Regions from separate parts of the Homo sapiens genome. Here all the other regions are linked to region 2. The links come from fine-mapping of genetic effects on gene expression. A gene starts in region 2. Each other region holds a variant in brackets. All regions are shown on one strand. Distances are from middle to middle. Region 1 overlaps CARMIL3 (capping protein regulator and myosin 1 linker 3). Region 2 holds the start of PCK2 (phosphoenolpyruvate carboxykinase 2, mitochondrial). Region 3 holds the start of EMC9 (ER membrane protein complex subunit 9).

The links. PIP is the estimated chance that this variant, and not a neighbour inherited with it, causes the effect.
Region 1: its variant is fine-mapped to the expression of PCK2 in whole blood (TOPMed, PIP above 0.99). The same link has a PIP of 0.9 or more in blood mononuclear cells, esophagus mucosa, esophagus muscle, gastroesophageal junction, lung and monocytes.
Region 3: its variant is fine-mapped to the expression of PCK2 in whole blood (INTERVAL, PIP above 0.99).

What each region holds. Positions count from the first base shown.
Region 1 is chr14:24,056,120-24,061,119 of GRCh38, reverse strand. CARMIL3 (capping protein regulator and myosin 1 linker 3) reads right to left here. Exons shown (of 40, transcript NM_138360.4): 11 at 4,727-4,821; 12 at 4,412-4,498; 13 at 4,096-4,205; 14 at 3,876-3,953; 15 at 3,241-3,317; 16 at 3,056-3,160; 17 at 2,896-2,965; 18 at 2,359-2,440; 19 at 2,134-2,230; 20 at 1,931-1,985; 21 at 1,678-1,850; 22 at 1,388-1,456; 23 at 1,057-1,150; 24 at 865-963; 2 more. Among named protein-coding and RNA genes, the nearest start is that of CARMIL3, 6.6 kb to the right of the region's middle. The variant C/T (reference allele first, on the strand shown) is at 2,657.
Region 2 is chr14:24,089,864-24,097,333 of GRCh38, reverse strand. It overlaps PCK2 (phosphoenolpyruvate carboxykinase 2, mitochondrial), which reads right to left and starts at 3,023. Exons shown (of 10, transcript NM_004563.4): 1 at 2,900-3,023; 2 at 197-442. The coding sequence starts at 2,928. The region is part of intron 1 of NRL (neural retina leucine zipper); the gene reads left to right. RefSeq lists enhancers at 2,628-2,697, 2,351-3,000, 6,870-6,919 and a silencer at 3,008-3,257.
Region 3 is chr14:24,139,786-24,147,255 of GRCh38, reverse strand. EMC9 (ER membrane protein complex subunit 9) reads left to right here and starts at 5,665. Exons shown (of 6, transcript NM_016049.4): 1 at 5,665-5,818; 2 at 5,940-6,149; 3 at 6,291-6,367. The coding sequence starts at 5,952. It overlaps PSME2 (proteasome activator subunit 2), which reads left to right and starts at 646. Exons shown (of 11, transcript NM_002818.3): 1 at 646-722; 2 at 1,016-1,048; 3 at 1,484-1,546; 4 at 1,791-1,877; 5 at 1,983-2,013; 6 at 2,101-2,198; 7 at 2,788-2,856; 8 at 2,997-3,064; 9 at 3,227-3,281; 10 at 3,585-3,671; 11 at 3,767-3,891. The coding sequence starts at 675. The coding sequence ends at 3,847. MIR7703 (microRNA 7703) reads left to right here and starts at 3,691; the gene lies at 3,691-3,767. It also overlaps a transcript of RNF31 not described here. RefSeq lists enhancers at 1-23, 161-230 and silencers at 541-600, 5,742-5,831. The variant C/T (reference allele first, on the strand shown) is at 4,015.

The DNA of each region.
Region 1 (5,000 bases), 35 kb after region 2:
CTCTGACTTTAGCTCTGGGCTTAGGGCCTCAGTCAACACTAGGTTCCCACCATGGATTCCTCCCTCCTCCAGGACTTGCCTGCAGCTCCTTGTCCACAGCTTTGGACACCTCACTTGCTACTGATTCCAGCCTCTGCCGCACAGGCCCATCATTGGCCAGCACGTGGCCCAGCTCATAGAGGCTGGGAAACAGCTGGAGAAGGAAGGGGTTATGATTAGCAGGCCAGAACCAGGACTTGCTAGGTCTCTGGGGTCCCTGGGCTAGGAAGGCAGATGCACAGGGCAGGGCTGTCATGGCTTAGCATGGTCGGCCTTCTTGGGTTCTCCAGACTTCAGGGGAAGGGTAGCCTGTGGAGGGCTCACCGCCCGGGAGTTCTTGGCATCTTTGATGAGGTCCCGAGCGTAGAGTAGCTCATCCTGCACAGGCTCCAGGGGGCATAGTCTCAGGGCCCGCACCTCCTCCTGCACTCGTCCACACAGCCGCTGCAGCATCTGGAGCACAGTGGCAGGGGTGTCAAGGGGACCCCTGCTTCCACATCTTCGCAGGTAGGACCCCTTAGACAGTGCTACTGGTGCTGGCACCGACAGTGGTGGAGGTGATGTCTCTGGCTGGCCTGGTCCCCATTGCTACAGCCTTCTTGAATGCCCAGCTGAGCTCCCAGAGTCCTGTGCACTCCTGCTGTTCGCCCACATATGTTTGAAGCCCATATCCTGCATGTCCTCTCTTTTTGCTTCCCCACATGCTCAGTCCAGTGATAGGCACCATGCAGTGCCTCTTCATGCTCCCCCACTCAATTTTCCATCACATCACACTGTGCCCTGCATGCCCCGGGTATGCCCCGTGTCCCAGAGGGAAACGTTTACTTGCTCGGCGCTGCTGGTCACCAGGCCCTGCTGCAACCTGAAGGCCTGCTCCTGGGGGCACGTCTGGGAGTGGTTGTTCCTCACTAAGCACCATTGGATCTGGAGATGATGGGGTTGGTGGGTCAGGGCCTGGGGATGGGGGCTGCCCCCTGCCCCTTGCTGTGCCACCCTGCTTAGGACAGCACCCTGCACCTTCTGCCAGACGTCCTCGGTGCGCTCAGGCGCGCTGCGATAGGCTTGGGAGATGTCGCTCACGGGGAAGGACATGAAGCGCAGCGTGTGGTTGCTGTGGGACACAGGGGCACAGCTGGGTGGGAACAGGTGAGGATGGGAGGCCCCTGCCTCCTCTGTTGGTGAGCAGCCCTCCAGCCCCCTTGCTCATCATTTCTGTCTTCCATGGCCCTTCCTAAAATTTCTGTGCAAATAGGTCAAAGGGGCTAGGGTGGGGCAAGAGTAGTTCAGGCCTGATCCAGGCACAGGGAGGCTGGGGACTTGGATCAGGGCAGGACCATGGTCTACTCACCTCTCCAGGGCCCTTGCGATGTCCAGGAAGCCCAGGGCAGATGTATTGTTCCGATCCCATAGGATAGTTCTGGGGGGAGGGTAAGCACCAGTTTGGCACCTCTCCTCCTGGGTCCCTACTAGGGGCCAGGGACACAAACCTCTTGGGGCAATAAGGCTGACTCAGAGATGGTTCTGGGGCTGGGGGTCTTCTGGAAGCTGGGGTCCAGAGCATCAAGGAAAGCAGGGAGATTATGTACATATGGGGAGGGGCTGGGGCTCCAGGTCAGGGGGTCCCGGTGTGGGCCCCACCTGAGGGAGGAGTTTATCTGCAGGGCCTTAGACAGCATCTTGGCCCCGATGTCCTCCATGCCATTGCCGCTCAGATCCACCTTGGCCAGGCAGGTGTTGCTGCCCAGGGCATTGATGAGGATGCTGGTGCGAAGCTTCAGCCGGGAGTCTGCCACCGACAGTGACTGCAGGGACTGTGTGGGCAAGGGGCGGTTGGACCCAGTCCCCACAGCCTCCTCCGACTGCAGGTCCCCTCCCAGGCCCAGGCACTCACACAGTCCTCTTCCTGGATCAGCTGCACCAGCTTGTGGAGGATCTCCTCCAGGGTCCTGCAGGGAGGCGGGGCTCAGAGTAGGAGGGGAAGGGCTGGGGTCATGCTATTGGAGGAGGAGAGAGGTGGCCAGAGGTAATACGGTGAGCCAAGAGGATGGGTGAATGATGGGATGAGGGTCTGTGGGCATGGAAAGGGGGCCTCACTTGGCCTTGACATTGAAGTTCTTGCCCAAAAACAGGTGCTTGAGGGACTTGTTCTTGCCAAGTGCAGGCACCAGTGTCAGGAGGTCCGAGTCGAACCCTGGTGAGCAGATGGGAGAGGCCTGGCCTGGAGGCCTGAGGCTGACTGGTGTCCCATCAGGGCTGCTTCTGCATGCTCCAGGCCCCTGTTCTCCCCTGGCCCCAGGGAAGGGAGGAACCACTACTCACCATTGTCTGACAGATCCAGGCTGCCTACACAGGTGACAGCTCCCAGCTGCTCCTGCAAGGCTTGGGCTCCCGCTGAACGGAGCTGCAGGGACAAGGTGAGGTAGGGAAGGCAGGGGTTGGGGTGGGGGTAGGGCACCTTTAATGCTTAGGATATAGTAGTCACACCAGAACTCAAAGTCATGCCAGGATCTGGGTGTAAAATCAGGGAGACTCTTTCCCCACACCAGATCCTTCCCTAGAGCTGGCTTCCCTCCCTTCGGCCAGGAAGGCTGCTATTCCTAAGACAGCTTGCTCCTGC[C/T]CTCTGGTGGAAAAGTCTGGTATCTCCCACCCCAAAGCTTTAAGGGCAGAGATACTAGAGACTGAGAATGAATGGCCTCTGGAAAAGAGGCCAGACTGAGAGGGGAAAGTGGTGGTGTGGCCAGGTCAGGGGGTCGCAGAGGGTCAGCACAGAGGCTAGATGGAGCCAGGGTTTGACTTAGGTCTGAGAAATGCACATGGATCGGAGGCGGGCAGAGGGGTTGGGGACTGAGGGCTCACCTCGCAGCTGCTGAGATCCAGGTGCAGGTCACTGAGGTGACTGTTGAGGGAGAGGCCCTGAAGCAGCGCCCTGTGGGAGGGAGGTCAGCAGGCCCTCCTTTACCTCTTCCCGCTCCCCGTGGTTCCCTTGGATGCGCCCCCAACCCTGCACCCACCCGACCTGAGGGCCTCCAGGGGCAGCTTTGTGGCCGACAGATTGACGTGGCTCAGTGTGTAGGCGCTGCTGAAGAACTGCTTGAAGGCCGGCGGGGCCTCTCGACCCTTCCTGTGGAGAGACCCCTGGGGTCAGCGAGGGAGGGGGTTGGCCATGTCTTGCCCTGTCCTCCCTTCCCCCTCCTCTCCCACCTGTGGGAGCAGCTGTTGCGAGCCAGGTTGAGGTAGGTGAGGTGGGAGCAGCAGCCGTGGAGCAGGGCACCGAGAAGCTGTGGGGGGAGATATGGTGGGTCTCAGGGGAGCTGGAAGGGGGTAGGGGGTGGCAGGAAAGGACTCCCCCTCCCTCCCCATCGAGGTTCCTGGCTCTTCATTCTCTGTGGTCAGCCTGTGTGAGCTCCACTGGAGATGCCCACTCAGATTCTTGAAGTCTCTGTTTTCTCCCCTGTGGAACATGGGTCTACTCCCTGCCTGGCTTCCAGGGGCATGAAGCTGCTCACAGGCAGTGGATGTGTAAAGCCAGGGCCACCACTGACTCCTAAGGTGCCTTGTTCAAGTTAGGAAAAGCATCCATTCCCCTGGTGGAGCCAGGGTGCACAGCTGGGGAAGGGAGCAAGGGCTGGCTTTTAAGCACAGCAAGCACAAGCTTGTGACCTGGATAAAGTGCCACACAGGTATGAACTATGGACATTGCTTTATACTTCAGCTGAACCTGAAGTCATCTAGACAGCTCTGCCCGCCTGTGTACTCAGGGATAGGGGGTGAGACCGAGGCCCACTGTGGTCTTCCCCAAATCACCTCAGACTGGCTTCCCATCACCAACTCCTCACCAAGTCGATGACGCAGTCAGTTCCTGACAGGTCCAGGTGCACCAGGGCGTTGGGTTGGGCCAGGAAACTGTAGAGGGCCTGGAGTAGGAAGGAAGAGGGGTTGCAGGGGAAGGGATGATGGAGTCTCGCCACCCCCAGAGGCCATGGGGCAGAAGGCCTCCCAGCTCCTGAAGCTTAAGCATGCTTTCTGCAGGGGGCTGAGGCTGTTCTGAGGACTCACATTGGCCTCATCCGTGGCGAGGAGCCCAGGATTCTTGCTCAGGTCCAGGTATCGAAGGGAGCTGGCAAATGCTGGGTTTGCCCCGAAGGTCTGGCCGAGTGCCTGGAGCCCTGAGCACAGCGGGCACTGGGCTGGGTTGGCCCCTAGCCCCACCTCTTCCCCTCAGCACATAACTCTTCCCCTCTCCCCAAACGTGGCTCCTTTTCACTCTTCCATCCCTGAGGTGGTGTGTGAATGTGTGGGTGTACCTCTGGAGCTCAACACCCCAGGCAGCACCAGGGTAGGGTCAGAGGTCAGGGGTCCTTGGTGCGAGTACCTCGAGGGGAAATGGCAGTCTTGGCCAGGCACAGTTTGGTGAGGCCAGAGGGGAAGCAGAGGAGCTGCTGGCTCAGACTGAGAAAACCTGGGGAGTGGAGAGAGAAACGGGCCCAGTGAGGGGCAGGGCAGTGGGTGCAGGTGGCACAGAGTCAGGTTGGGGGCTCGAGTAGGGTACAGGCCTTGGGTCAAGGATGGAGGTGTCAGGGCAGGGGCTGGAATCAGGCTGGAGAGCTGCTGTTCAGACCTGGTTGGGCTCTGGGCTAGGACAGGGGTCTGCATTGGGATGGGGACAGGATTCAGGGCTGGGGCTCACCCTTGTCCTCGATGGGGTTGTGGGACAGAGTGAGGGCATGCAGCACACAGCTCCCGTTCTCCCCAAACACCCCGGCCAGCTTCTGGACAAAGTCCCTTCAGGGAAGGGGAGGAAGGATTTGTCCTGAGCTGAGCCCCAGGTCCCAGCCTCTGGGCTTCCCCTCCTCCTCTACCTGACTGCCTGGCTGGGGCTGCATGGTCAGAGGCCCCCACAACAGGGGAACAGCTCAGGGCCTGCCAGGGAGCTTGTCACCACTCCGGAGTACCTGGGGGCA
Region 2 (7,470 bases):
GGTGATCCACCCGCCTTGGCCTCTCAAAGTGCTGGGATTATAGGCGTAAGCAAATCCCAGTTTCTGGGTCTGTTTACCCCAAAGCTCTCATTCTTGTTCATTCCATTGGGATGTTCTAGTTAAGTTGATTTTGCCTTGGTGAACCCAAAGTGGCCTCAGTGCACCTATCCTGCAGGTTGTGGAGCCCAAGGCTTACCAGTTATTGTACTTGGGGAGCTTTCGGATGAGGCCCTGCTGCTCCAGCAGGGTCAGTGTGGCAGTATTCTCAGCCTCAGTTCCATCACAGATGTGGATGCCCTCTGGTTGGCACAGGCGGGCACTGTGCTCTACAAAATCTCGAATGCCAGTGGGAAGCTGGCCCAGATCTCCACTAAGCACTCGCAGGGTCTGGATGCTACGGCATGATGGCCAGCCCAAGGGGCTCAGCCCATGCCAGTTAAGCCTATAGGAGAAACAGAGGCAATGAGCTAGTTGCTGTCATCGAGAGTGGACAAGGCAGGTGGTGGAGAGACAGAAAGCTTGGGCTGCAGCCTGCTAAAACATGTCTGCATGCAGGGACCATGAAGAGCAGGTTGCAGTTGGTGTGTGGGATGTGTTCAGGACACATGTATCTTGTAGCCTTTATGAGGCTTGAGGAGGGTGTCTCCTGCTCAGCGAGGGACAGATATGGCCAAATGAGCAAAAAAGGCACATGCCTGGCTGTGTGGAAGTATACATGTAGGCATGCTGATGTTACTGCCTGTGTAGCCCATGCCCATGTTTAACTGTTTAATCAACGTTTAGAAATAAGTAGGGAGATGGCTGGGCACGGTGGCTCATGCCTGTAATCCCAGCACTTTGGGAGGCTGAGGCAGGTGGATCATGAGGTCAGGAGATCAAGACCATACTGGGCAACATGGTGAAACCCCATCTACTAAAAATATAAAAATTAGCCGGATGTGGTGGCGTGTGCCTCTAGTCCCAGCTACTCAGGAGGCTGAGGCAGGAGAATCGCTTGAACCCGGGAGGTGGAGGTTGCAGTGAGCCGAGATCGGGACACTGCACTCCAACCTGGGCGACAGAGCAAGACTCTGTCTCAAAAAAAAAAAAAAAAAAAAAAAAAAAAGAAATGAGTAGGGGCCTTTGGCCCAAGTGTCAAGACAAGAAGTTGGGCCCAGGTGACAATTTCATATGTCTGGTATTTGAAGCCTCATCCATTTTATTTCCATTTTCAAGTATAGTTTTTTATAAATTAAAATGGCAGCTGTGTTTATTCTTTCCTTCTGGTGTGTATGCTGTAAGACTATGAAAGCCCCAAGCAAAGGTCACAGTCTTTCCAGTGCCAGGTTTCTAGATGAGGGCTCTTGCACAGAGAATAGGTGACTGGATGCTGGGCTTCCAGGCCCTGATCTGCTGCTGCCCACTTGGACCAACAATGGTTGCATAAAATGTTGCCCTCGGGTAAGTATTTCTGAACTCTGCGGAAGGTTGACCACTGGGGAATGAGTGTCACTGGCTGGGGTTCATGGGCTTAATTCTCAGGAGGTCAGCGTCCTGTTGTCTGTCCTCTCATGGCCCTGGGAGACAGAGAAGCAACGTCTGCTCTGATTGGCCTGGACTCAAGGTGGAGTAAACCCGAGAGAGCAAAGACCATGAAGGGGATGTTACTCTCCTCCTCTATCAAGGCCTCGCCCATCAGAAACTGCCCCCACACCCAGGACCACGTGACCCCGTGCTTCCCCTGGCTCTTCTTCCTAGAGGCCACATGCCTAGAGAGCTTTGGTGTTGGTGGGAGGGTGGAACAGCAGCTTGCTGGCAGCTCAGACTCAGAGGGTGTTAGCCTGGGGAAGGAAGAAAGCTCAGAGCATGGATACGGGAGCTTGAGTCTGTCTGGGGTAGAAGCTGGGGTGGTTTCCGCTAAAGCAGGATAGATGATCAGTGTGGCCCCAGGGGCAGGGGAGGAGGGCTACTGGGACCTGGGTCTGTTCCTGCCTCAGAGGGAAGTTCTCCGTGAGCATCAGTTTTCAAGCACACAGTCTTGAGGACAGCCTCTCTCTCCCTGGAGCCTGGCTCACGTTATCTCTTGTGAAGCCCCCACACCCTCTTGCAGCCCTCTAAGTGGGACGTTTCCTTCAGAGACCACCCACAAGGGCTGCCCAAGTGGAACGGGCTGTGCGACAGATGTGGGTCACTTCCGACTCTGGGACAAAAGCTGAGAAGAGAGGCCTCAGAGAATAAATAGGAGACTAAGAGGACAGGCAGACAAACAGGACGAGCCTGGGGGCTCCAGGCCTGGACGGAGGAAGAAGCCAGCTATGTAAGAAACGAAGGCAACTTGGCGCCCTCCTCCCACCTTGCTTGCCTCCCTCCCCTGGGCCCAGGTCCCTCGGGCTGCTCTGGACTTCCCGCCAGGTTCCAGTCCTTCCAGTCCGGGAGAGGCCGGGAATGGATATTTAACCTTCCACCTTCTTTAGGGGGCTCTGAGCTTAGTCTCCCGGGGCTCACGTACCCTTGTCCCCAGGGCCCTGCTGCCTCTCGAAGTACCCTGGGGCGCTGGCTGAGAGCCCGTTAGAGGTCCGAGGGAGGTATCTGGGAAGGAAAGGAGGATATGCGGAGACCTGGCTCAGCAGAGAGGAGCGAGGAGAGAGAGGAAGTTCTGAGAGTGGCAGATAGAGATCGCGCGGTCAGAGGCGAGCGAGGCAGAGAAGGGGAGGTGCAGGCGGAAACGAGGAGCACCGGCCGGCTGCCCTCCCAAGAGACGCGCGGCGCGGGAGGCTGGACCCACAGCAGTCGCCCCTGCCCGCCTCCGCCTAGGATGGGAAACCTGGCGGAGGCTGAGAGCAGGAGAGCGCCACTGGCAGCCCCGAGGGGGCGAGCGCAGCGGAAGGTGCGGGTGGGCCCCGGGCCGGGGGTCACTCACCGCAGGCCAGGGCGGTACAATGCGGCCATGGCACCTGGGCAGGGGCTGCGGGGTGGCCAGGAACCGAGCGGAGCCGGGGAGGTATGGAAGGCGGGGAAGGAGGGAGCGCGGCGAAGCGAGCCACAGCAGAGGCTGGCGGGAGGCGCTTAAAAAGGAGGGGGGCAGGCGCGGGGGCGGAACCTGGTAGGGCTGGCACTAGCTTTCCTCCGCCCCGCTGGCAGGCCAGCTCCCTCGGCCCCGGGGCTCCAGGCTCCAGGTCAGCCCAGCCGCCGCCCCAACCCCTGCCTCCAAACCGCCAAACCCATCTCTCCCATTGGAGGACTGGGTCCACTCTTCGGCCCCCGACTTCGAGGCCCCGCCCCCCATCCGCCACCGCCCTCCCAGCCGCACATGATGTAACTTTGAGGACTCTTGCTCCCGGGAGAGACACTAGGTGGCAAACAAGCTAGGAACGAGGGGCGAGGCCAGGGGCGGGAGACTACAGGGGCCAGACGTCTAGAAGTTAGGGGGTTGGGCATTGCCTTTCCAGTTCCTCCTCCTGGGGACGCGACACCCTGAGTCCTGGGCCTTTCTGTAGTCCAAGTGCCCAATGCTAAGGTCCACTTAGTCCCCAACTCCTAAATCCCCGTTTCTCCTCCTGATCAAGGCTCCTTTCTGCCTTGCCATGAAATGGTGGAGTCTCTCTACCCCTGGGTCTCTTCCTTGGTCCTCTGATCTGGTCATTCTCCTCCCCCGGCACATCCCCTCTTCCCCTGACGGAGTCTTACTCTGTCACCCAGGCTGGAGTGCGTGCAGTGGCGCGATCTCGGCTCACTGCACACTCCGCCTCCCGGGTTCAAGCAATTCTCCTGTCTCAACCTGCAGAGTAGCTGGAATTACAGGCGCCTGCCACCACACTCGGCTGATTTTTTGTATTTTTTGTAAAGACGGGGTTTCTCCATGCTGGCCAAGCTGGTCTCCAACTCCTGACCTCGTGATCCGCCTGCCTTGGCCTCCCAAAGTGCTGGAATTTACAGGCGTGAGCCACCACGCCCGGCCTGGTCATTCTTTCTCTCCACAATCCAATGAGGAAACTCATCTGCCCACCCAACTACCATCATAAAGTCCTCAGGTGATTTCTCAAGCTATACCTCCATTGGGACATCTCTCTCCAACCTGAGACCACTGGATATCACCCACAATGCTATATAGCACCTCAAACTCAGCATATCTATGATGGGTGTCTGCTCAGCATCCACTCGCCTTTTCTGGTAATAGCACCCTGATTTTCTTTTGGGGAACCATCTCCTCAGTCTGTATTGTCATGTGGGTCTGATGTCACCCCTCTTGGGGGTAGGCTTGCAGCTTAGCCAACTTTTGTGTTCCTCACTCTGGCCACAGCAATCAAGGATGTTCAAGGATGGGCATGAGATCCCTCTCTGGGACTTTTTCTAAAACTTTGGAAGTTAGCTCTCTTTCTGCTGAGTTGCTGAGCTGGTAGAATATAAGCCTGGAGCTGCTGAGTGTTAGCTTGGCACTGCAAAGCAGGAACCTGGCTGAGACAGAAGCCAGCCTAGAGGAAGCAGAGCAGGGAGATGGCGAGCAATGGATTCCTGATTTCAGTTACAGGAATTGATGCATTTCTTCTCTTGCTCAAGCTAATTTTAATTGGAGTTCTGCCACTTGCAACAGAAACAGTCTTGATTCTCAGATTTCTTGGAGTTCTATGCTGGAACATAGTGGGATAAGGAGAGCTGGTCTCCAGCCACGGGCTTGCTACTGGTCCCCGTCTCTTCCCCCTCAGGCTCTAGCCTACACTCAACCTCAGGTATATGTATTTGGATCTCTTTCCCCCCAGTTCATAGATCCAAACTCTGTCCACACTTACCCAGCTGCAAACACATACCTCTTGGCCAACCTTTGGGCCTAAAGGTGTGCACACTGGTGGCAGCATGGTTGACCTGAAGGTCATCATCTTCTCCATAATCCTGCACCTGCTCTCATGGTTTCCTACCTCAGCAAATGGCACCATCATCTGGCCAGTTGCCCCAAAGGGAATCAGTCTAGACTATTCTTATCCTGCATAGCTAATCAGATGCCAGGACCTTTGGAATTGTACTTCTCAATTAGCCCTCAAGTCTGCAACTATCCCCATGGCCAGGGCCTTAGTTCAGGGCTTATCTCTCACCTGGCTTCAGGTGATAGCTTCTAAGGCACTTCTTGGACTCCTGCCTCTCCAAACACCAACCCCTCTCCCTACCAAGCCACTCCCCACACTGTGCATGCAAATCCACTTGGAAAGTTAAGAGAGAAGAATAATGTTTATGCTATGGACAGTAGGTGCCAGGCTCTGTGTCAGCAACTCTGCATGCATAATCTCATTCTGTTTCACAACTATATTTTACATATGTGGACACGGGCTTAAAGAGTCATTTGCTCGGTCACCCTAAGGGAAGAATCAAGGAAAAAGGGAGGCAGGACCCCAGAAGTATGCCAACATATAACACCCTAAATCAAAGGTCAAATGCCGCACTTGACCTCCAAGATGCCTGCTTGGGCCTCTTCCAAGTGTACTTTCCTTTCTTTCATTCCTGCTCTAAAGCTTTTTAATAAACTTCCATTCCTGTTCTGAAAAAAAATTATTCATGAATATTTTATACTTTTATCCTATTATGAATGAAATGTTCTAATTGTTTACCACAAGTACATACAAATAAAATTGCTTTGTGTATATTGAAAAAAAAAAGAGTCATTTGCTCAAAGTCACACAAATGGTTAGCAGGAGAAATGGAATCTGAATCCATATCTTTCTGACTCTAATTACCAAGTCCCCCTCTCCCTATAAATCCTATACTGTCCCCTTGATTTACCATTAAAAATTAGATCATATCACTCTTAAGCTTAAAATCTCTTCCAGGCTCTTTCCATCACATGATATCTTATGTCCTTCATAATCTGACTCCTATTTATCTAATGTTGTCACCCCCACATCCCCACTTGCCTCCTTTTCTCCTACGTACTGAACTCTGAAGTTTCCAGAGCACTTCTGTGAACTTTTTCTGGGCATCTGCACTCAAATTAAACACACACCATCCTGGCCAACATGGTGAAACCCCGTCTCTACTAAAAATACAAAAATTAGCTTGGTGTGGTGGCGCACGCCGGTAGTCCCAGCTACTCAGGAGGCTGAGGCAGGAGAATCGCTTGAACCCGGGAGGCGGAGGTTGCAGTGAGCCGAGATCGCACCACTGCACTCCAGCCTGGGCAACACAGTGAGACTCTGTCTCTAACACACACACACACACACACACACACACACACACACACACACACACAGGCCTTTTCTGTTCGTCCCTTAGAATGAACATCTATTTCATCTGTGTTGCTTCTATCCCATGTATATGCCTATATTTTTGTACTTTACTATACTGTAGTTACTTTTATATCTCTGTAATCCTCACTAGAGTGATGATTTCAGTCTTGTTTTTCTCCTAGTTCCCAGCAGTACCTGGCCTATAACAGGCACTTAATAAAAGTTGGTTGAATAAAAGAATGAATGAGTGCCACGTTTCTGAATTCTTCTTCCCCACCATTACTTTCTTCTCTAGCTTTAGGCAGATGGAGCAAGGGGCTCACGTGCAGATTTCCTTGCACTGCTCATTTCCCCTTATCTGCCACACACTTTTCTTTAGTTCCCTGCCGGGAGAGCCTGGCCCACCAGCTGGCCCTATGTCCAAGGAGTACCACCAGGGGGCAGAGTGTGATCTGCATTGTCCTCTCTGGGGCCTCTGGGTTCATCCCTGAAGTCTCACAGCCCGAGTAGTGATGCTGTGGTGTGTAGCCCAGATTCCCGCTTCAGGATCATGATGCTCATTGTTCCAGCTGCTGAGTGTTGGCTGCTGATAGCTCACAGCTGAGTACTTCCTTGAGCACTATCTGTGGCCAAAGGGAGCTGTCTCACCAAATGCAATGCCCGCTTCCTGGGGGCAGTATGTATCCAATGAATGGTTGTTATAAAGTACAGAGGCCTAGCCCTTTGTCTCAGTTTGGGACAACTCTGAAGGTCCATCCCAGCCCCAGAGCTCTTTAGGCTCAGCTGATTACAACTGCAGTGCCATTCAACTGTTCCCTCTCTTGGGTCCTGCTACTCTTTCTTTGAAAGTCCCCCCCCGTGCCCCCCCCCCCCCCCCGAGTAAACCACCTGCACACAAGTTTCTGTCTCAGAGTGTGCTTCCAGTTGCAAATATTCCTCAGGCTCAACTTGGTTACGGCATTAGTCCTCTAATCTGACTCTTATTTCATTGTTGCCTTCCTCCACAAACACAAAGTGCTGACATACGTGATCCTTCCGAACACAAATCTGATCACATCATGTCTCTACTGAAAACCCTTCAGTAGCTTCTCCCTGCTCTTAGAATAAAGCCCAAACCCTTAATGTGACCTCCCAGGCTCTGCATGATCTGGCCCCTGCTGACTTCTCCAGCCTCAGCTATCACTGTTCTTCCCACCTTCCAGGCTTTCTACTCTCTGGCTACGTGGATCTTTTCTCAGTTTTGTGAACATGTCTACATCTTTCCTGCCTCACAACCTTT
Region 3 (7,470 bases), 50 kb before region 2:
TATCCTATTCAGCTCAAAACCTTTCTTTTTCTAGCTGGACCAGTCCGGTACGCTCCGGGCCTCACCGAGGAAGTCCCACCCTGCAGGGGAACCGACTCTGGCCGGCCCTAACCCCTCTCGAGCGAGTCCCGCCCCATCTCCGGTCTGTCCTGAAGGCAGAGGGAAGACCCTCACCCAACCCCTGCCCGCTCTCTTCTAAGAGCTGCTAGTCCTTCTCCACCCCAGGCGCTCCCTCTGGCTGCCCCTCCCACTCGCTCTGATCTCTCTCCGTCCGCTACTTGCGGTCGAGCCTTCTTGGGGGAGCCCCGCCACTGAATACCCCCTTTGCCATACTCCCACCTCTCTTACCCCAACCCTGGACTTCCAGTTGGCCCTAGCTATAAGCCCCGCCCCTCTCCGAGGGACAGCCCCCGCTCCAGTCTCCGCGGTCCCACTTACCCTAGCCCCTCCCTCGGGCAGCCCCTGGACTGTGACCCAGCCAGCACCGCCTCTCCTAGTGGCAACTGGCTGGGAATGGCTGAGGGGCTACCTACTGCTTGCGGCCTGCCAGCGGGAGGAGGGGGGCGGAAAGAAGAAAGGGGGCGGGGTTGAGGGGGGCGGGCCTGGACCTGGGGAGTGAAAGCGAAAGCCCGGGCGACTAGCCGGGAGACCAGAGATCTAGCGACTGAAGCAGCATGGCCAAGCCGTGTGGGGTGCGCCTGAGCGGGGAAGCCCGCAAACAGGTAATGGGGAATCGGAGGCCAGGAAGGGGTCATAGAACCCTCTTGGGTGGAGGCCAAGCTGGGTGGTTCAGGGGACCAAGCAGTGCCAGAGAACTCCCCCAATCTCGCTAGTGCCTTCACTTCTCGGGGATTCCCAGATTCCTGCCTTCTGACTGCAGTGAGCAGGAGCTTCCAGGGAAAGCTAGTTTGTGGTGAGAAAGGCCTGAGCCACAGTTCGAGGGCACCCTGTTGTGGGTGGAAGCTTTTGACAACCCAGACCCTTAACCAACATCCGGGTACTGCTCTCTGTGTAGGTGGAGGTCTTCAGACAGAATCTTTTCCAGGAGGTAAGTCTCTGGATTTGAGCGATTTGACCCAGAATCTTGGACCAATACTTGAGGATAACAGCCTCTCAGAATGACCCCCCCAAGTCACCCTAGACTTAACCCTACTTCCCTTACCAAGCCTTCACCCAAAGTAACCCCGGAATTATTGATAGCTACCTTTAATCTGACCTTTCTTATGACTCTCCCGACTTCTGGCACTTCTCCCGTCTTTTGATGTGGAGGAAAAAAACCATGGCTTCCAAAGCAGGAATATCACAGTCCTAACCTTCGTTCTGCCATTTACCAGCTTGGGCAAGTCCTTTCATTTTCAGGTCTTCAGTTTCCTCATTTGCAAGTCTTGGACCCAGTGATTTCCAAAGGCCCTTCCAGTTCCATTTGTCAGACATCTCATTGAGCATATTCTGTGATTCCCCTCCCTTGCAATGTAACCCACAGGCTGAGGAATTCCTCTACAGATTCTTGCCACAGAAAATCATATACCTGAATCAGCTCTTGCAAGTGAGTAGTGTGGGCCCCTTCTGCCCCATCCTATGTCCTCTATCCCCTTTGCCCACCCTCTCTAGCTAACAACTGGATTCAGCATGCAGAGAATAGTTTCAAATAGTGGATTAGGAACATTAGGATGGCGTGAGGCATGAGCCTAGGTTGGGAGGCAGAGTGCAAGTGGGATGTATGGAGGGAAGGCTGTGACCTAGGATGAAGGGAAGAGGTTGGGCAGCCCTTGACAGTGAGCTCTGTGCAGGAGGACTCCCTCAATGTGGCTGACTTGACTTCCCTCCGGGCCCCACTGGACATCCCCATCCCAGACCCTCCACCCAAGGATGATGAGGTGAGGCACTCAGGGTGCAGGACTTGGACTATAAACCCAATGGAGAAGATAGCCCTTCAACCTCTGTGACTTTTCTAAAGCTACTTTCCCCCCTTTTTGCCTTAGATGGAAACAGATAAGCAGGAGAAGAAAGAAGGTAAGAGAGATAAGAGGTGACTAGGGAAGGGGTGATGGCACACTGACTACTGGATGAGAAAGGGCCTGAATCCCCTCTTTCTCACAGTCCATAAGTGTGGATTTCTCCCTGGGAATGAGAAAGTCCTGTCCCTGCTTGCCCTGGTTAAGCCAGAAGTCTGGACTCTCAAAGAGAAATGCATTCTGGTAAGCCTGGGAAATGGGGGAAGCAGAAAGAGAAGACACACAAGGTGAGGCCCTGGACTCCTCCGTAGATACAAGTCCTTCATACAGAGACCTAGTCCTGAAAAAGAAAACTTCCTTCTGTGCCTTGGGCTTAGATCCCCTTTGTTCTCCTCGTTCTGTTAGACCTCTCTTATCACAACGGTACCCCCAAAATTAGAGACTGTGCAGTATCCACTCTGTAACCTCAGAACCTACTGCTGTATTGGGTTCATAGTAGAGGTGGTATGATATAGTGAGTGAATTGTTTTAAAAGATTGGACCCTAGAGAGAGACTGCTTAGGTTCAAATCGTGATTCTATCAGTTACCTAGCTGGTAGCCTTAAGTAAGTCACTTAGACATTCTGTGACTCAGTTTTTTCATCTGTTAAATGGGTACAATAAATACATATCTCTGAAGGTTGCTGTGATGATTACATGAAATAAATACATGGCACAGTACCTGGTATGTAATAAGTACCCAATTAAATATAACTTTTTTTAGGAAGTGACAGTAATAGGAAGAACTCAGTATGTTTGTTGAATGATTCTTACATGATACCTCTTAACACAGGTGATTACATGGATCCAACACCTGATCCCCAAGATTGAAGATGGAAATGATTTTGGGGTAGCAATCCAGGTAAGAAAAGGGTAACTGAAGATACTTAGAGTGGGGAGAGCCTCAGGGGGTGAGCTAGACATGAACCAGGAGGAGGAGGAAGATAGTGTATGAAATGGGGAGGACATGAAGTGTTGTCTTTGCCTCCCGTGTCACCACAGGAGAAGGTGCTGGAGAGGGTGAATGCCGTCAAGACCAAAGTGGAAGCTTTCCAGACAACCATTTCCAAGTGAGGGCAGCTGGAGGACCAGCATTGGGGGCAGTAGGAGCATTTCTTTGGGACCCCCAGAGCTGGGCAGCCCTATCAGGATGATGGGAGACTTTGGGAAGGGTCTGAGGGAGTACATCTCCCTGAACACTCATTCCTGTGGTATTCCCTTGCTTCTGGCAGGTACTTCTCAGAACGTGGGGATGCTGTGGCCAAGGCCTCCAAGGAGACTCATGTAGTGAGTGGATAGTCCACCAGCCTTTTAGCTGGGTGTGGGACGAGGAGGTGTGGAGGAAGAAGTCCTCCTTGTCTTGTTTGTGACTTTCCCAATGTGGAGAATATTAAGCTAAAAGCATTACCTAGAAAAACTGGTTTGGGCTTCAACAACCTTGACCCTTTTCTCTGCTCAGTCCTTTGGGATCCTATTTCTTGGTGCTAAGAAGGGGTTCATTCTCAAGTTAACCTATTTCCTATAAAAGGAAACCAGACTCATGTCCCAGCCTCCCATGGGACTGACTCAGCTTTGCCTCCCACATTGCAGATGGATTACCGGGCCTTGGTGCATGAGCGAGATGAGGCAGCCTATGGGGAGCTCAGGGCCATGGTGCTGGACCTGAGGGCCTTCTATGTGAGTGTGGAGTAAGGCTTTAGGGGAGGTGGATGAGTGGGGGCAGGCAGGGGATTGGCTAAGAACCTGACTCTTGCACTCTGGCCTTCTCCCAGGCTGAGCTTTATCATATCATCAGCAGCAACCTGGAGAAAATTGTCAACCCAAAGGGTGAAGAAAAGCCATCTATGTACTGAACCCGGGACTAGAAGGAAAATAAATGATCTATATGTTGTGTGGATTCCCTTCTGGCGTGTGTCATTCATTCAAAAAGCATTTATTGAGTGGCACCTATGTCCAGCCTGAAGATGAATGTGGTGGGAAGGGGTGGGTGTCACAAAGACAAAGATGACTTAGATGCCCA[C/T]TGTAATCTTGACTGTGAGAAAGAGGGGATTCAGGCCCTTTCTCATCCAGTAGTCAATGTGCCATCTCCCCTTCCCTAGTCACCTCTTATCTCACTTACCTTCTTTCTTCTCCTGCTTATCTGTTTCCATCTAAGGCAAAAAGGGGGGAAAGTAGCTTTAGAAAAGTCACAGAGGTTGAAGGGCTATCTTCTCCATTGGGTTTATAGTCCAAGTCCTTCACCCTGAGTGCCTAGGGTGGGGATTGTTACATGCCATGGCAGCCATGCAGATAACCTGTATTTTGGAATGTAACAGTATTATTTTCATCCAGAGGTCTCAGGAATTATTGGAAGAGATGGCATTTGCACAGAGCCCTTATGGGAATAATCAGGCTTTGGATACACAAGGGGAAAGTTCTGTGGTCAACATCAGGAATGAAGAAAGAAAGAATCCTCATCAGTTCAGGAAAAGCCTAGAAGGAGAATAAGGTTTCACTGGGAGAACTATGGAGAACTACGGATGAATGATTGGACTCCCCCCACCCTTTTTTTTTTTTTTTTGAGATGGAGTCTTGCTCTGTTGCCCAGGCTGGAGTGCAATGGCACGATCTCAGCTTACTGCTACCTCCGTCTCCCGGGTTCAAGCAATTCTCCTGCCTCAGCCTCCCGAGTAGCTGGAATTACAGGCATGTGCCACCACACCTGGCTAATTTTTTTGTATTTTTAATAGAGACGGGGTTTCGCCATGTTGGCCAGGCTGGTCTCGAACTCCTGACCTCAGGCGATCCACCCACCTCGGCCTCCCAAAGTGCTGGGATTACAAGGCGTGAGCCACCGCGCCGGGCCTGGACTCCCTCCTTAAGGGCTAGGAGGGGAAAAAATAATGCTTCCAAGGCACTGTGGTGAAGGAAATACATCGCAGGACATTATGGGAAGGATGAATCTGTAAGTTTTTCTTACTGTCCTCCCCCATATCCCCTTCAGCCAATCACTGTCTTTATCTCTGCTTTTCAAGATTCAGCCCTGGGCTGGTGATAGAGACAAGGGTTCCTTTGCTGTGATCTTGCTGTAAACTCCATGGGATTGTTCTTTAATTCAGGGCCTTATCCTGTCATAAAATATGAGATAAGAATGTGCTGCGAAGCACTAGACTGGCTGGAAGCCTGCCCCCATACATATCTCATTAAATCCTTAAAGGAACACGGGCAAAAGATAAACCAAGGGCAAGAAAACCTGCAGTCGCGAAGGCAACACGGCCCATTAGTAAGTGACAGAGCCGATCTAGAGTACAGAGCCACTCAACCCATAATAGGCGCAAGGCGGTCTGCTTTGCCCGCAGCGCTCCGGAACACCCGGCTACGGGATAGCGATCCATCCTTGGGGCTCGGCGGAGCGAGTGGTAGTGGGCAACACAGGTAACAGGCAAAGCCAACCACCAACCGAGAGCGGAAGTCGGGGAACCTAGCCAATAAGAGTGCGGGCAATTTTCTGTGCTTCACAATGGTGGGTTCTTTCCAGTCCGCTGGAGACAAAGGCGGGGCAACGTTGGGGCGCGGCCGCTGATTGGACAAATTGAAAGCCTTTAGCCCTATCAAGGAGCACCACGTGGGCGGGACTCCAGGAGCCAGTTCTGCAGGGAGCTGCAGTTTGGTCTGTCTCCCAGGCAGGCGCAGAGTCGCGGCCGCCAGCTAGGGGCGCGGGAAGGCGGGGCTCGGATGCAATCGGGACCTCCTCCTGGACTGGGCCGGGGGCGGACTCCGGGACCCAGGGCGCCGGGAGCCGGCGGGCTACCTGCGAGTCGAGTTAGCGTTGTCGCCGAACCGAAGTGAGAGGGCACGGGGAAGGGTCAAAGAGCGTGCCGAAGCGCTGGAGGGAGCTTCACGGACGCGAGCTAGGCACCGGCTCGCCTAATCCGGTACTAATCCGGCTTGCTGCTTCCCGTCCAGGCCTCGCTCGCCATGGGGGAGGTGGAGATCTCGGCCCTGGCCTACGTGAAGATGTGCCTGCATGCTGCCCGGTACCCACACGCCGCAGTCAACGGGCTGTTTTTGGCGCCAGCGCCGCGGTCTGGAGAATGCCTGTGCCTCACCGACTGTGTGCCCCTCTTCCACAGCCACCTGGCCCTGTCCGTCATGTTGGAGGTCGCCCTCAACCAGGTGCCTCCGTTGGATGCCCATCCCCCACCGCGAACCCACCCAACACCCCAGCCCAAGTTCATCCCCGGTCCCTTGGCAGCAGTGCGCATCCACAAAGCCAGCGGCACAATTTAATTACTGATGGCCCCTTTCCTACGACAGGTGGATGTGTGGGGAGCACAGGCCGGTCTGGTGGTGGCTGGTTACTACCATGCCAATGCAGCTGTGAACGATCAGAGGTGAGTGGCGTAGCCAGAGGAAGAAGGAAAGGATTATGGCGGGTTGGGGATTGGAGGAATAGAGGGCGAGGATGCGTGGGGCGGTGGGCGGGGCGGGGGCGCACAAGATGAACCAAGGTCGTTCCTTTTATCTTTCCTTCATCAAACGCTTAGGAGCAGGGGCTTTACACCAGGCACTATGCTGGGTACTGGAGTGAGGGAATATAAAGATGAATAGGACAGAGCCCTGCCCTGGAGTGCCGTTGGGGCGGGGAGGACAACTGTGTATCAACAGACTGATTTTTTTTTTTTTTTTGAGACGGAGTCTCCCTCTGTCTCCCAGGCTGGAGTGCAGTGGCGCAATCTCGGCTCACTGGAACTTCCACCTCCTAGATTCAAGCGATTCTCCTGCCTCAGCCTCCCGAGTAGCTGGGATCACAGATGAGCGCCACCATGCCCGGCTAATTTTTTTTATTTTTTTAATTTATTATTATTTTTTATTTTTAGTAGAGATGGGGTTTCGCCATGTTGGCCAGGCTGGTCTAGAACTTGACCTCAGGTGATCCACGCGCCTCGGACTCCCAAAGTGCTGGGATTACAGGCGTGAGCCACCACTCTCGGCCAACAGACTGATCTTGCTTTAACTGAGGTGTCCCCCAGGGGCTGAAAGAACAGAGAAATCCCAACCAGCAACTTCAAAAATAAGGCAGTTTCCTTATATATATACATATAGGAAAAGACATATATATATATATATATATATTAATCATATACATGGAGCAATTAGAGGTACTGTTTTGTAATTTGCGTTTCTCCCTCACTTAATAAATACTTGACATCATCCCATTTCCACACCAAGATCTACCGTAACAGCTATATAGTCTGAATATGAATGTACTCTAATTTATTTAATACTTTAAACATTGAGGTTGTTTCCAGTGTTTTATTACAGACACTGTCCTATGATTACCATAAATTCTTTATAAGTAGAATTTCTGGGTCAGCATATGTATAGTATGTATACAGTTTCAATTTGGATGGTTATGCCAAATTACCTTCCAAAAAGACCACCTTTGGTTTCCACTCTCACCAGCAATATCTGAGCACCTGTCTCCCACAGCACT